Linked DNA regions of Homo sapiens: region 2 is linked to region 1. The links come from fine-mapping of genetic effects on gene expression. A gene starts in region 1. The other region holds a variant in brackets. All regions are shown on one strand. Distances are between the middles of the regions.

The links. PIP is the estimated chance that this variant, and not a neighbour inherited with it, causes the effect. A credible set is the group of variants that fine-mapping cannot tell apart.
Region 2: its variant is the best candidate, but not a certain one, in a credible set for the expression of TM4SF19 in visceral fat (GTEx, PIP 0.61).

What each region holds. Positions count from the first base shown.
Region 1 is chr3:196,335,796-196,340,297 of GRCh38, reverse strand. TM4SF19 (transmembrane 4 L six family member 19) reads left to right here and starts at 1,910. Exons shown (of 5, transcript NM_138461.4): 1 at 1,910-2,034. It overlaps TM4SF19-DYNLT2B (TM4SF19-DYNLT2B readthrough (NMD candidate)), which reads left to right and starts at 1,878. Exons shown (of 6, transcript NR_037950.1): 1 at 1,878-2,034. RefSeq lists a silencer at 1,606-1,777 and enhancers at 1,526-1,820, 1,187-2,386.
Region 2 is chr3:195,871,905-195,875,904 of GRCh38, reverse strand. TNK2 (tyrosine kinase non receptor 2) reads left to right here. Exons shown (of 16, transcript NM_001382273.1): 10 at 3,435-3,629. Among named protein-coding and RNA genes, the nearest start is that of MIR6829, 8.5 kb to the left of the region's middle. The variant A/G (reference allele first, on the strand shown) is at 1,705.

The sequences.
Region 1 (4,502 bases):
TAATAATACTCAGCAATAAAAGAAAAATAAATTACATGATGGATGAATCTTACATATAGAATATTGAGTGAAGAAAGCCACACACAAAAGCCATACTGGGCTGGGCGCGGTGGCGCACGCTTGTAATCCAGCACTTTGGGAGGCCGAGGCAGGAGGATCACTTGAGCCTAGGAGTTCGAGACCAGACTGGGCTACATGGTGAGACCCCATCTGTACACGAAATTAAAAAATCAGCTGGCGTGGTGGCGCTTGCCTGTGGTCCCAGCTACTCAGGAGGCTGAAGTGTGAGGATCACTTGAGCCTATGAAGGCAAAAGGCTGCAGTGAGTCATGATTGTGCCACTGCACTCCCGCCTGGATGACACAGCAAAACCGCCTTTTTTTTTTTTTTTTTTAAAGAAAACTGTTTGATTCCATTTATGTGAAATTCAAGAACAACTAAAACCTAATCAATTATTATAAGAGCCAAAATGAAAGTTAACACTGGGGACAAGGGATACGAATGACAGGCGACACAATGAAACCTCTGGGGATTTGGAATGTCCTGTATCTTGATTTCTGTGCTGGTTCACCAGGGTATACATGTAAAAATTCATCAGACTTTAACATTAAGATTTGTGCACTTTAGGCTGGGCGTGCTGGCTCACACCTGTAATCCCAGCACTTTGGGAGGCGGAGGCGGGTGGATCGCCTGAGGTCGGGAGTTTGAGACCAGCCTGACCAACATGGAGAAACCGTGTTTCTACTAAAAATACAAAATTAGCCAGGCGTGGTGGCACGTGCCTGTAATCCCAGCTACTTGGGAGGCTGAGGCAGGAGAATTGCTTGAAGCCAGGAGGCAGAGGTTGCAGTGAGCTGAGATTGTGCCACTGCACTCCAGCCTGGGAACAAGAGTGAAACTCCGTCTCAAAAAAAAAAAAAAGAAAAGAAAAGATTTGTGCACTTTACTGTATATAATATCTAGATGTTTAAAATGCAATGGGAGCATAGAGAAAGAAGTACCTAACTCGGAGTAAAGAAATCCTGGCAGACTTCACTGGGAATGTTTGAACTGAATCTTGAATAGGAGCTTGTCCATAGAGGGTCACGGATCTCCCACACAGAGAGCACCACAAAATCCTCAGCAATTTGGTGAGAGTATGGTACAAGATGATAGTGGCCTGGGGCTTGAACAAGAGGCTGAGTGCGGTGGCTCACACCTGTAATCTCAGCACTTTGGGAGGCTGAGGCGAACACCTGAGGTCAGCAGTTCGAGACCAGCCTGGCCAAAATGGCAAAACCCCGTCTCTATTAAAAATACAAACATTAGCCGGGCATGGTGGCAGGTGCCTGTAATCCCAGCTACTCAGGAGGCTGAGGTGGGAGGATTGCTTGAGTGTGGGAGGCGGAGGTTGCAGTGAGCCGAGATCATGCCACTGCACTCCAGCCTGGGTGACAGAGTGAGACCCTGTCTCAAAAAAAAAAAAAAAAAAAAGTTAGACGTCTAGTACAGGAACCATGCAACACATCGAGTCAGCCAAGGGCAAGGTAAGGAGAGTGATGAGGAAAAAGGGGTGGCTGCCCTGCTCGGTGCTGTTCTGTCAAAGAGCCGAAATTCTTCGCGGGGTGGCAGATGAGGACAGGAACAGCTGGGGTGTGGCAAGTGTTGCTGCCTGGGGAGAGCGGAGGGTGAGGTGTTTCTCACGGGTGCATCCAGTGACTCATCAGGACAGCGGAGCTCATGAGGCCATGTCTCCCGTTTCCTGCCTTAGAATCACATGAAAATGAGCAGAGGGTGGGTCATCAGGACAGGGCTCTCCGGGGAGCGGAAGCGCCTTCAATGCAGGCCTGTGGGCAGGGGCGTGGGGGCGCGCACACACACACGCCTGGGTGACCTCTACGTATATACAGAGCCTCCCTGGCCCTCCTGGAAAGAGTCCTGGAAAGACAACCTTCAGGTCCAGCCCTGGAGCTGGAGGAGTGGAGCCCCACTCTGAAGACGCAGCCTTTCTCCAGGTTCTGTCTCTCCCATTCTGATTCTTGACACCAGATGCAGGTAAGCAGAGATGAAAGGGTGAGGTGACGGCCAGGGAACAGCCTAGCCTCACAGATGAGAGTGCACGCTTCCACTCCAGTGAGCCTGGCTCTGCAGCTTGGCGTCTGTGTGACTTTGCGCCATTCACTTACCTTCTCCTGTTGCCTCAGTCTGTCAACTTCTGGCCTTTGCACCTAGAATACTCTTCCTGCCTAGTATCTCATCGTCCATCAAGTTTGGGCATGGGCAGCCCTTCCTCCGGGAAGCTTCGTTTTGCTTCTGCCAGATAGGATTAGGTTCCTCCATGTGCTTCCATGACACCTTAAGTTGGATGCCCCTGCCTGGTACTTACTGTTACCAGCTGTGAATCCAGCGAGTCTGCAGCAAACTCAATCCTTGCCTTCTCGGGGGAGAGATTCGGCTGAGGGGCAGAAGTGGGTTTAAGGCAGAGGGAGAGGCTGAAGCAAGTTTGAGAGCAGGAGTGAAGGTTTATTAAAAAGTTTTTGAGCAGCAATGAAAGGAAGTAAAGTACACTTGGAAAAGGGCCAAGTGCGTGACTTGAGACACCCAAATGTGCTGTTAGACCCTTGACTTGGCGCCTGCCTGCCGCACAGGCACTTGGGAGGGGCCGCATGCGCAGTGTGTTTACTGAAGTCGTGCGCATGCTCACTTGAGGCGTTTTTCCCTTACCCGCGGAGCAGCACTAGAGGAAGGTCACACACACCAGCTAAACTCCACCATTTTGCTTCTTAGTGTAGATGCTTGAGCCCACTCGCCCAATTCCTGAGCTCTTACCAGGAAGCTGCTGATCACCAAGTTCAGGTATTTTCTATCTATTGGGAGACTGTCTTTCCCAACGCTGGCTGTGACCAATATTATTTTAGAAAGACAGTGTAACAACCGCCTGGCCATCACCTGATAGTCACCTGACATTACTGGGGTAGAGGCCCTCTCCCGCCCTGCTCATGTCTGCTCTATTTCTTACCACACTTGATTAGAATTACTTTTTGGCCAGCCTGACCCACATGGCGAAAACCCATCACTACTAAAAATACAAAATTAGCCGGGCGTGGTGCATGCCTGTAATTCCAGCTACTTGGGAGGCTGAGGCAGGAGAATAACTTGAACCCGAGAGGCGGAGGTTGCAGTGAGCCAAGAGCATGCCGCTGCACTCCAGCCTGGGCAACAAGAGCGAGACTGTGTCTCAAAAAAAAAAAAAAAAAAAAAAAAAAAGAATTGCTTTTTGCGTCAGCAGTGTCCCCACTAGACTTTAAGCTCCTCAAGGAAAGGGATTACATCTTTTTCATCGTTATATCCCTAGCCCCCCAAGTGTCTGTCAGGTAGTGATCACTTAATAAATATCCGACTGAAGGAAGAATGAAAGAAAAGCCTTGCTGGGTGGCGAGGGAGAGACACAGATGTAGAGAATGTGCGGTCTCTTCCTCCATGGAATTGAGCCGATCACTTCTGTTGTTGCCTGGACATCTAGCCGATGACGTGCTCACCTAGCTAGGACCTCAGGACAGAACAAGGAACTCCCCAGCAGCCTGGTTTTAAGGTTTTACCTTCTGATCTTGCTTGTCTCTTCAGATATCAAATTAGGCCACCTCTTTGCTAACCTCCTGGTTCACATTTTTGGAAGGGTTTCTCCAAATGTTATAATTTCTAGGGGAATAAAGTCAGGAGGAGGGGTGAAATTCACACGAAGCCGCAGTGCGGCAAGTGCTTTTAGTGTTTGATTGGCGGACAGCCAGGGCTCTGAATTCCACTCATCCAAAAGCCATGCTCCAGCTGGTAGTTTTCCCTCGCTGTCCATCATTTTTAGTTTCCCCTTTAAGAGTTTTCTGGGCTGGGCGCTGTGGCTCACACCTGTAATCCCAGCACTTTAGGAGGCCAAGGTAGGTGAATCACCTGAGGTCAGGAGTTCAAGACCAGCGTGGCTAACCTGGAGAAACCCCATCTCTACTAAAAATACAAAATTAGCCGGGCGTAGTGGTGTGCACCTGTAATCCCAGCTACTCAGGAGTCTGAGGCAGGAGAATCACTTGAACCCAGGAGGCGGAGGTAGCAGTGAGCTGAGGCCGCGCCATTGCACTCCAGCCTGGGCAACAAGAGTGAAACTCTGTCTCAAAAAAAAAACAAAAAACAAAACAAAAACAAAAACAAAAAAAACAGACTTTTCTGATGGGAACGTTTTCTGTAGAAGAGATCGTCAGGGGGGTTGATGTTGCTGAAGTGTGTAGACGGTGCTTTCTCAGAGGTGCCGTGATTTGAAGGCACTAAATGCATTCCTGCACAACGGCGTCTCCTGGCCCCATGATCTAGAGCACCCGCTTGAAAGGCCAACCACACACCCATCTTTCCTTGGGCCCCGGTCAGACATCTGGGTGGGCAGTGGATTAAAGTTGTGAGTTGTTAACACCCTGGGTGGTTAATTTGCCTCAACACAGAATTACACACTGCAAGCCCCGCACTGCACGATGGGACCG
Region 2 (4,000 bases), 460 kb after region 1:
TTTCCAGAGCTGGGGCAGCCTTAGGCAGTTCTCAGCACCGGCCTCTGTTTTCCATCTTGTCTACCCCAGAGATGTTGACCAGAGGCCCGGGGGCAGCAGGAGGTAGAAGGTTCATGCGGAGGTGTTGGGCCCTTTTCCTGCTCCCCCAGGAAGTCCTCATCCGCCCCTGCTTCAGTCACGGCCGGGTAGCAGCCCTGGCCCTCCCATGGCCACGGGGACTCCGGCCTGTTCATGGCGGGAGAGAGAGGGCGCGGACAGGGCGGGCCTGGAAGGAAGGGCTGGCCTCAGTCCCCTCTGGACTGCTGGTGCCTCGGCCACACTGAGCCTCACACGGGTGCGTGTGGGCTGCGAGAAGTGACACGGTCCTCTTGGAAGTCCCACTGGAGCCTTGGGATGAAGCTGCCTTGGAGTGTGCGTGGGCGCCATCCCGAGGGGGAGCTTCCTGTGCCTCCGAGCGTGCGTGGGCGCCATCCCGAGGGGGAGCTTCTTGTGCCTCGGAGCGTGCGTGGGCGCCATCCCGAGGGGGAGTTTCTTGTGCCTCGGAGCGTGCGTGGGCGCCATCCCGAGGGGGAGTTTCTTGTGCCTCGGAGCGTGCGTGGGCGCCATCCCGAGGGGAGCTTCGTGTGCCTCGGAGCGTGCGTGGGCGCCATCCCGAGGGGAGCTTCCTGTGCCTCGGAGCGTGCGTGGGCGCCATCCCGAGGGGGAGTTTCTTGTGCCTCGGAGCGTGCGTGGGCGCCATCCCGAGGGGAGCTTCTTGTGCCTCGGAGTGTGCGTGGGCGCCATCCCGAGGGGAGCTTCTTGTGCCTCGGAGTGTGCGTGGGCGCCATCCCGAGGGGGAGCTTCCTGTGCCTCCGAGCGTGCGTGGGCGCCATCCCGAGGGGGAGTTTCTTGTGCCTCGGAGCGTGCGTGGGCGCCATCCCGAGGGGAGCTTCTTGTGCCTCGGAGTGTGCGTGGGCGCCATCCCGAGGGGAGCTTCTTGTGCCTCGGAGCGTGCGTGGGCGCCATCCCGAGGGGGAGTTTCTTGTGCCTCGGAGCGTGCGTGGGCGCCATCCCGAGGGGAGCTTCTTGTGCCTCGGAGTGTGCGTGGGCGCCATCCCGAGGGGAGCTTCCTGTGCCTCGGAGCGTGCGTGGGCGCCATCCCGAGGGGAGCTTCCTGTGCCTCGGAGCGTGCGTGGGCGCCATCCCGAGGGAGAGTTTCTTGTGCCTCGGAGCGTGCGTGGGCGCCATCCCGAGGGGAGCTTCTTGTGCCTCGGAGTGTGCGTGGGCGCCATCCCGAGGGGAGCTTCTTGTGCCTCGGAGTGTGCGTGGGCGCCATCCCGAGGGGGAGCTTCTTGTGCCTCGGAGCGTGCGTGGGCGCCATCCCGAGGGGGAGTTTCTTGTGCCTCGGAGTGTGCGTGGGCGCCATCCCGAGGGGAGCTTCTTGCACACGTCCTCCGCACTCTTACTCTCCTTCCCCCAGGAGCAAGCATGTTTTCTCGAGTGGTGTCAGGACTCCCAGCAGCCATGGGGGCTCTTGCCTCGGCCATACCTGCACTAAGGGAGGTGGGCTTGATGTCTCCTTTCCCTCTCAGAAGTGGGTCCCAAAGGAGGCTTCTGTGCCTGGAGCTGGGCAGTGTTGGCGGAAGGGAGAGGCCAGACGGAGTGACCTGCCTTGGGCACGAGTCACGCTGCTCTGAGCAAGGTCTCGGCCTCAGCGGCATTCTC[A/G]CCCAGTTACTGAGCGCCTCTGAAGAGGTGTGGAGAGCAGAGTCCGGCGTCTGGCCCGCGGCAGCCACCGGGGAGCCCGTGGGTGTAGCGGGAGAGCCGCAGCCCAGCCGGTGCCGGGGTTCCTCCTCTACGGGCCGCCGTGGGAGGCTGTGTGCGTGCTGGGGAGCCGGGGCTCTGCTCCTTCGAGTGGCCCTGCTATTTTTCAGATGGGACTCGTCTCGTCTCGGGGTACTGTCCTCTCTCCTTCCTTCCCTCCCTGCAGGCAGGGTGGGAATCACAGGGTGGCTGTGTGTGGTGGGGCCAGGCCAGTGGCCCTGTGTATGAGGAGGCTGGGCAGGGGGAGCACAGCCCCGTCTCCCCGCGCCCCGCGCCCCCCGCCTCCCCGCCGACCGTGGTGCTCTCGGGTTTGACTTTGGTCTCTGGGATGGGCTGTTCCGGAGTCACCCCGCTCCAGCCAGGCCTCGTCACCTTACAAGGCTGTGGGTCTGGGTGCCCAGGCGTCGCCACCTCCTCCGTCCTCTCTCCCCGGCCTGGCTGGGTTTCAGAGGAGCCCTTCTTCACGCTTTGGCCCTGGGACAGGAGAAGTGGGGGTTGGTGGGGAGGGCGTGCAGTGTGGTGCCACACGTGTCCACCCTAGCAGCTCTGGGCTGTCACCGCCCCCGCGTGCCCAGACTCTGCCCACGGGGCTGTCACCGCCCCCGCCTGCCCAGACACTGCCCACGGGGCTCTCACCGCCCCCGCCTGCCCAGACACTGCCCACGGGGCTCTCACCGCCCCCGCCTGCCCAGACTCTGCTCACGGCATCACGTATGACAAGTCCAGCAGCAGACGCGGGAGCCTCACAACCTGTGAGAGCCTTCGGGAGTCAGGAGTGTCTTGCGGGAGCCCTGTGCTTCCTGGCCTGCCTGCCCCTGCCCCTGCCCCTGCCCCTGCCCAGGCCCCGGCTTAGGCCACATCAGCAGAGGTTTCGTGTCTGAGGTCAGAGGGGGACTGGCAGCCCTACTGTCTGGTCACTGTGGGAGAGCTGAGTTCCCTTTTGGACACAGGTAGAGCCCCTCCTGAGGAGACGGGGAGGCTCCCGCAGGCCTTCCGGGAGGTGGTGGAAAGCTCCGGAAGCAGGTGAAGCGGTGGAGGGAGGGACTGAGTTGCCCGAGTGCTCCTAGACTCTCCCGCGTCTGCATTCGGGAGGCAGGTTGTAGCTGGAGGCCTGGCCCCCAGCCTAGTGCAAGGCCCTAGGTGTCCCCCGGCACCCCCGCACCTCTCAGAACTCCTGGAACCCAGCCGAGGAGTGAAATCAAGTGGCCAGAAGAGGACTGGGGCCCCGGCCTTGCCAGGGAACTGAGGGGTGAGGAGGAGGTGTGGGCGGGGCGCTGGCCCCACAGACCTGAAAGCTGGCGTTGGGTCCCAGGTCTGCTGGGATCTTTCTGGTAACCGTGGACAGGTCATGTTGCCTGCTGCAGCAGCTTCCAGCGTGCCTCCTTATTTGCAAACCATAGGGAAAGCTGCCTGACCCACCTAGAGAGTTGTGGGTAAGGCCGTGTGCAAACAGGCCTGTACGGGGCATGGTGGGTCACGGGGGCTGTTGGGGAGGAGGGCCGGTGGCACACAGCCTGGTCCTGAGGCCTGAGCTCCATCCCCCTTCTGCCACAGTGGCCAGGGTGTGAGGAGGGTCCCAGTGCCGGGGCTGCCCCGCCACGCCTGGCGTTCACCGTGCCATCTCTGTCGCGCAGGGCCGAGAACTACTGGTGGCGTGGCCAGAACACACGGACGCTGTGTGTGGGGCCCTTCCCTCGCAACGTGGTGACCTCCGTGGCCGGCCTGTCGGCCCAGGACATCAGCCAGCCCCTGCAGAACAGCTTCATCCACACAGGGCATGGCGACAGTGACCCCCGCCACTGCTGGGGCTTCCCGGACAGGATTGACGAGTGAGTACTGGGCGGGGATGGATGCTGACCTGGCCCCGCTCGGGACTCCAGGGCCCTCAGCACGGCACGCGTGGGCGGAATCTGCTCTTCACCCTTTCGCCCGGGCTTCAGCCCCCGACCCGCCACTCTCCCCTCCTCACCCTGGCCTTACTCTCGGGAAGCTGTGGAACCCTAGGAAGCCCAGCCTGGTGGGGGTTCTCCAGGGGAATGTTCTCCAGGGGAGTGTTCTCCAGGGGAGGGTTCTCCAGGGGAGGGTTCTCCAGGGGAATGTTCTCCAGGGGAGGGTTCTCCAGGGGAGGGTTCTCCAGGGGAGGGTTCTCCAGGGGAATGTTCTCCAGGGGAGGGTTCTCCAGGGGAGGGTTCTCCGGGGA